Homo sapiens: one gene and its partner. The protein of the gene in region 2 purifies or fractionates together with the protein of the main gene of each other region. This does not show direct contact. Each region holds a gene or a part of one and is shown on either strand. Other genes may lie near its edges.

What was found.
Region 1: the proteins of RIOX2 (region 2) and NAA16 fractionate together in Homo sapiens (co-fractionation; one large-scale study listed by BioGRID). This does not show direct contact.

What each region holds. Positions count from the first base shown.
Region 1 is NC_000013.11:41,366,569-41,370,393, forward strand, and holds part of NAA16 (N-alpha-acetyltransferase 16, NatA auxiliary subunit), read left to right. Parts: intron 1-870; coding exon 871-1,084; intron 1,085-2,521; coding exon 2,522-2,715; intron 2,716-3,825. UniProt on the Homo sapiens protein: Auxillary subunit of the N-terminal acetyltransferase A (NatA) complex which displays alpha (N-terminal) acetyltransferase activity.
Region 2 is NC_000003.12:97,958,725-97,962,549, reverse strand, and holds part of RIOX2 (ribosomal oxygenase 2), read left to right. Parts: intron 1-841; coding exon 842-961; intron 962-3,370; coding exon 3,371-3,499; intron 3,500-3,825. UniProt on the Homo sapiens protein: Oxygenase that can act as both a histone lysine demethylase and a ribosomal histidine hydroxylase. Is involved in the demethylation of trimethylated 'Lys-9' on histone H3 (H3K9me3), leading to an increase in ribosomal RNA expression.

The DNA of each region.
Region 1 (3,825 bases), on a different chromosome or scaffold from region 2:
AGGGATTAGTTCTTAACCTCTTTTGGCCATGGATCCATTGAAAATTGGATGAAAGCTTTGAGCTCTCTCCTTAGGAAGAAGTTTTTATGCTTGTTTATACATAGACTCCAGTTTCAGAACTTCTGCTAAAATGGAATGTAGGTAGAGTAAGAGAAAACAATAAAGTTCTGTATTTATATAACAGTTTACTGTTGAAAATGAACTTTAAAATACATTATTTGATCCTTTAACAACCTTAAGAAATTGGCTGTATGGATTTCTTTATTCTTAACTTAGATTAAATAATTGTCTAGGAAATTAAAAGGCTTATTCAGGGTCGCATCCCTAATAAGAAGCTTATCTCTTGAGTGGGCAAATACTGTGCTTACTGAATGTCTGCTATGTATTAGGCCCTGTGGCAGGCGGTGGGTAAGGATTGCCCTTGAAAATGGTAGAGTTGAGTAGAGCAGTCAGATTTGTAAATATTTAGTGTGAACCTACACATATTTAGTCTTCATTCAGAGCTCTGTTTAACTGTGCCATGCTGGTTTTTAGGGAATATGGAGGAAGAGTATTTCATTAAAACTAAAATATTAATATATACTAACTTTCAGGTTTAAAAAATAACCTGATCTTTTGACTTATATAGAAGTTGAGTATCATCACAAAACATGATTTGTAGGGAATGGGCATGGTTTGTAGGAAGAGAAAGTTCAAGTTGAATGCCAAAAATAATTCATATCCTTTATAGTGTAAAACATTGGAGAGGGCAGCTAAGTGAAAATTGTGACTGTTTAAATTGTTTTTTGGGCTTTTTACAATTTTTTTTTTCTAAAGGTAGACATTATTGACATAAATGTAAAGGTTAATTTTGTGATTTTTGTTTTTAAGCATTTTTTTGAGATAACTGATGACCAATTCGACTTCCATACATACTGCATGAGAAAGATGACCCTTCGTGCCTATGTTGACCTTTTGAGATTAGAAGATATACTCAGAAGACATGCCTTTTATTTCAAGGCTGCTAGATCAGCGATTGAAATATACTTGAAATTGTATGATAATCCCTTAACCAATGAAAGCAAACAACAAGAAATAAACTCAGGTAACTGAATAGGAACTTAAAAGATTTTAAAAGGACACTAAATTTCAGAATGCCATTAGCGTAAACAATACCTAGAAAAATATTAATATATTGTCTGTTGGAGTTGAAGACAAACATTAGATAACTCATATGCCAAAAAACAAAAATGTTGCAGAGAGAGTTAAAAAAAGTGGGATGATATTCTGTAGCTGATGGTTCTAAATTACTTTAATGGAACAACTTAGAATTTTTTTTATTTTTGTCTTCAGAAAGACCAATTTAAGAACTGGGTATGGTGGTTCACGCCTGTAATCACAGCATTTTGGGAGGCCAAGGCAGGCAGATCATTTGAGGCCAGGAGTTCAAGACCAGTCTGGGCAACATAGCATGACCCCTGTCGCTACAAAAATTTTAAAAAGACGAGTTTAGGAAACATAGAAATGTCTGTGGACTAGTTTTTTTCTTTCTTTTTTAAAAAATTGTAACTGAAAATAGCTTTGAGCTCCTTAGGAAAAAATATATAATCTTAAAATTTCTAGTTCCTACTTTATTAAAAATAAGAATATCAGTGAGAATATCTGTACAGTTTTTTATTCACTAGAATGTTAATATCTAGGAATATTTGAGAAATAGTTAGCATGAAATGAGCCTAGGTAACTATCTCAGATATTCCTAGGTAGCTGTTCATTTCTAATATTTATATAGTATTTAGAGATCACAGGTGTTTATATGTATTATCTCACTTATTCTTGAAAGACTTGATACTGAGAAGGACAAAGTGATTTGCCTGGAGTCATATATTGTGTAGGAGGCAGAACTGGGCTACTATTGGTCAATTTTAGTTAATGCAACATTTACTGGCTGTCCTTTGTGTGCCCAATTTTGTTCTAGTCACTGGGGATACACTTTCTAAAAGCTTTTATATGGGTTGCCTCTGCATCCCTCCTTGCCCAGACAAAAAACAGAAAAAAAAAGTATACAGCTGGCCCTCCATTTTTGTGGGTTCCACATGGGTGGAACAAATCATAAATATGTTTTTTTAAATTGCATCTGTACTGAACATGTCCAGACTTTTTTTCTTGTCATTATTAGTATTTCCTGAACAATGCAGTGTAACAACTATTTACATAGCATTTACATTATTTTAGGCATACCTATAGACCATAATATAATTTATGAAAAAGTGAAGTCATTATATGCAACTTAAAGCAAAAGGAAGGTGAAAGATTTAAAGCTGATCTAATTAAAAGTATACAGGAGGATGTACATAGGTTGTATGGAAATACTGTGTCATTTTATATCACAGGCTTGAGTATCAGTGGACTTTGTGGGGGTGGGGGTCATGAACCAATCCCCCACTGATACCAAGGGACAACCATACTAACAGTATGTATTACAGAAGAATATGAAGAAAATGCAAACATTGGCTCAGAATTTTGTTCATTTGGATATTTATAGAAAACTTGTCAGCCAAAGAATTGAAGAAAATGCTTAGCAAGCAGAGAAGAGCTCAGAAAAAGGCTAAACTAGAAGAAGAAAGAAAGCATGCAGAAAGAGAACGTCAACAGAAAAATCAAAAGAAAAAAAGAGATGAAGAAGAAGAAGAAGCCAGTGGCCTTAAGGAAGAACTTATACCTGAAAAATTAGAAAGGGTGAGATGGGTTTTACTATCTTTGTTATTTGGTAAAATTTATGCTATTTGGTTCCGTTCTGACAGTTAACATGATTTATTTAAATCTGTAAGAAGCCATTTGAAATATTTCAAGGTTTTTATAATAGCCGTCAATTATCTTTGAGTGACAGTATACAAATTTTGGCTAATGCAAGTTATACATAGAATTGCAATTGTGGTAGGCAGAGTAATGGCCCTGCAAAGGTGTCTGTGTTCTGGTCCCCCCAGCCTGTGAATATGTAACCTTACATGGCAAGGGAGAATTAAGGTGGGAGATGGAATTTATGGTTGTAATGAATTGACCTCAAGATAGATTAGCCTGGATTGTCCATGTGGTCCTAATATCGTCAAAAGGGGCCTTAAAAGTTGAGGATGCCAGCAGCAGAGGTCAGAATGATGCAATGTGAGGAGGACTCAACCTGCTGTTGCTGGCTTTGAAGATGGAAGGAGGGTGCCCCAAGCTAAGGAGTGTGGGCAGTCTAGAGAGGCTGAAAAAGGCATTGAACGGATTCCCCCTTCGAATCTCCAAAGGAAATGCAGTCCTGCTGACACCTTGATTGTAAGCCCAGTGAGACTGTGTTGGGCTTTTAACCTATAAGAACTATAACATAATAAGTGTGTTGTTTTAAGTCAATAAATATTTGGTAATTTGTTACAGCAGCAATACAATTGTCCATTACATATGGAATCATTTTACCTTATATGTCTTACTAGAAATGTTGTAGCTACAAAGAGATAGCACCTCCAGGATTTTCTCAAGTGTTAATAGTTGTTTTGGGATCAGATTTAAGGAAATATTTAGTTTTCTGGTTTATTCACTGTAAGTCTAGTACAGTTGGCCTTTGAACAACATAGGTTTGAATTTTGAGGGTCCAGCAAAGGATGGTTTGATAATTTTAGAAAGATGTTTGGGTTAAAAAATGTCCAGATAACAGAAGAATTAACTTCTCACCAAGAGCTGGCAGAGAAGTTCCAGATGCCATTGAGAAAATCATTGAGGAGAAGAGGTATCTGCCTGAACAGGTTTTTAATGTAGAAAAAAAGTGCTCTATCACAGGAAAAAATAAAAGCCACAAAGGACATCTATTAG
Region 2 (3,825 bases):
GAGAGAAGGAACATTACCCAGCCTGTTATTTCTTCTCTGTCTGTACCTTCTTCCCGTGTTATCATTTCTGTTCCCATTGCTTTAAATATCCATTTTGTGTAGGCAATTCCCAAGTGTAAATCTTCAGTCCTTAGTTTCTGCCAGAACTTCAGACCGACTTAAAGACATCTCCATGTGGGGGGGGGGGGGGGGGTCTTAGCATTCCAAACTTAACATTCCTAATATAAAACTCTTTTTTTTGTCCTGAAAACTTGTTTTTTAGTAAGTTTTTCCCATCTCGTTACGTGGAAAGGGGAACTGATTGCCCAAGTCAAAAACCCAAGAGTATTTTTTTTAACTCCGCTCCTTTACATTGAGTCTGTCGGCAAGTCCTGTCTGTGCTGCTTCTAGAGTGCATCCCACTCTTCTACCTCCCTCCTTGCCTTTCTTACCACCCCAGTCACTTCTCGCTTGAGCTGCTGCCTGAGAAGCTTCCTCACTAGTCTCTCTGACTTCCACTCTTTTCTACAGTGCATTCTTCACACAATAACCAGGGTGAGCTTTCAAAAATGTAAATTGGATTGTGTCCTTCCCTGCTTAAAAGCCTTCCGGACTCCCAATTGCCCACCTTGTCAGTCATCCCTTTATCTGTTCACGTCTGTTACATGGTGTTTCTGCACTGGAATGGAAGATTTTTGAGACCATGGGTATTGGCTGTATCATTGCATAATTCCCAGTATCTGGTGTATAATAGTTGTGCAGTAAAGACTTCCTAAGTGAACAAGAACATGCTCTTATTCTTATTTCTAATACATTTTTCACTCCCCCACGCCGACCCTTTCTTTTTTCCTTTTTTGTAAAGGATGAGCTTTGGAGGATCCAGGAGAAGCTGGAATGTTACTTTGGCTCCTTGGTTGGCTCGAATGTGTACATAACTCCCGCAGGATCTCAGGGCCTGCCGCCCCATTATGATGATGTCGAGGTAAGAGATGGAGAAAATTGCCCCATGTTGGGAAGAATGAGTTGTTGAGAGCCTGGTTTAGTAGAGTTGTCAGGGTGAGTTCACATTATTCTCTAAGGCTCTTAGGTCTGTATTCGCTCTTTCTGTGCAGTTTCTGAGATATTGATTTCATCAAAATGTTGGGCCAAAGTAAATCCCACTAAACTGGTTTCCTGCTCTGTCTCAAAGGAACAGCTTGTTTCCAACCTTACTAATTTAAAGAGCCACACATTCGTCTGAAACAAGTATTTATTGAATTTATCTACAGAAAGGTGTGCTTGGCTTTTCCTTTAATTTCACAAAGTATGGTCTTTAATAAGATGAGGTCACAAATAATCCTTCATGTGCTTTCATTTTGTTCTTTTTCAGTAGCTGCCAAAAATATGTATATATTTTCCATTTGTGAAAATCTTGGGGCAGCTTGAATGAGGGTCATGGTTTCACTTAAGCATTGGCATCTTGACAAGTGTTGATTTCACTCTGATATGGCTTCCAAAAAAATTTAACTCTTTGGCTTATGTATTCCATAGTTTTATTTTTGTCCTAATATAAGGTGTAAACACAGAGTTATTGGTAAAAAGTCCCCTTTTTCTCCTTTGATAGCAATTTGACATCAATACATTTTCACAAAATGTTATTTTTAATATTTTTAATAGAATATCTTTGACTGAATAAAGAATAAAAAACTCGAAGTTTTCCTATCTCCCCAGGCCCTTTCAACATTCAGGATTTAGACATTCAGTAATATCTGAAGCTTGGCTTTTCCATCAGAGATTATGGGCTTTTAGCTGTCTGATAGAAGATTTAAAGGAATGAGATAGTGGGATATAAAGAACTCAGCGAGGCTCTAAGAAAGTGAAAAGAATGAATATCCAGTGTCAGGATTCACGATTCCGTTTTTAAAAATAAAACCCAGTAGTGGCAACTTTTGTTTAACTGTGGAATGACATGCATTTCTCATCTTTCATTTTTATTTTTTATCGGAAACTTGACCCTTGTGCAGTGTGGGGGTTAGTGGTGCCAACACCTCATGCAGTCAAAAATCTGCTTGTAACTTTTGACTTCCCTAAAACTTAACTACTAGTAGCCTTCCATTGCCTAGATATCTTACTGATAGCATAAATTGGTTAACACTTATTTTGTATGTTATATGTGTTATATACTTTATTCTTCAGTAAAGGAACCTGGAGAAAAGTTATTAAAATTATAAGAAAGGGAAAAGTATTTTTAATATTGTGTTTATCAGTACCGTAAGTTTACATCATTTGTTTACAAGCTGAATCGTCCATCTGAAATGGTGGGTAGCCACAGCTGCAGGCCTTAATCTACAATACACATCAAGCAATTCAACTTTTTCTTGTAACGTTACGACTTTTTTCTGTTTCTCGGGAGTACTTGCAGTAGCAGTAGTGGCACATCATATGGGTCCCATGGTGTTATTCACGGCTTAAGTTGTTGCACTAAACATGATGAAAAATACACAAGAACTGTTGAGAGATCATTTTTTACTGTGATACACAATTCACTGGAGAGAGGAACTGCTCATGTGGAGATAATTAGCATCACACTTGAGCTCGTGGCAATAGCAACAGGAGGTAGCACAAAATTATTACAGTAGTACAATATGTACTAAAGTTAATTTTATTCAGCTATTCCATATTGCATCTTTAAGTTTGTTTACATTTCTTGACTGCAAATGGTGGTCTAGAAGTATTTGTATAGGTAAGTTTTGATAAATTTTAACCTTCTGTAATAGATTTGTGAATATTTTATGGTAGTAGATGATAGACTAGTATCTACATATGTTTTTATATTTGATGCATTTATGACATTCTTAATTCTTTTGATATTTTTCATGTTTTTCAAATTGTTGCAAATCTCCTCCAAATTTTCCAATATAATTTATTGAAAAAAATCAGCATATAAGCGGACCTGCACGGTTCATCCCCATGCTGTTAGGCCAGGCGTGGTGGCTCACGCCTGTAATCACTTTTGGAGGCCCAGGTGAGAGGAGTGCTTAAAGCCAGGAGTTCAAGACCATTCTGGGCAACAAAGTGACACCCCATCTCTACAAAGAAGATAAATTAGCTGGGAGCTGTGGTGCATGCCAGCTTCCCAACTACACAGGAAGCTAGGGCAAGAGGATCATTGGAGCCCAGGAGTTTGAGAGGCTGCAGTGAGCTGTAATTGTGACACTGCACTCCAGCCTGGCCAGGAGAATGAGACTGTCTATAACAACTAAAAAAAAAAAAAAAAAAAAAAAACCTGTGTTGTTCAAGGTTCACCTATATATTTGTCTATTAGCCCCTTAGAGGGCTAATAGTCCGGAAGCACTTTGTGTGTGAGTTGTCAGGAAGCTCTCTGATGCTCCTGGGCCTTGTGGGTCTCTAGGTTTTCATCCTGCAGCTGGAGGGAGAGAAACACTGGCGCCTCTACCACCCCACTGTGCCCCTGGCACGAGAGTACAGCGTGGAGGCCGAGGAAAGGATCGGCAGGCCGGTGCATGAGTTTATGCTGAAGGTATGTGATAACCGTTGTGGGCACCTCATTGTTAGAGCCATTGTGGTTTCCCCTATTGCTAAGACAAGTTCAGGCTCAAGGTTTAGAGTTCGTGTGATGGTCCCCGTGGGAATATATCCCTGGGTTTCAGGGCAGGGTGCTTCTCATTGCTGTCAGCCAGCACATGTAATTTCTGAAGGAGTCTTGGTGGTTTGCACTTGGAGAAGTGGGTTAAGGAAGTATTAAGTTCATTTCCCAAATAACCTGTTTTCATGTACAGTTCAAGTCCAACAGGAAGAAAGAGAATTCAGTGAACCACTGACTCCTCTAGAGGAAAAATGGAAGCT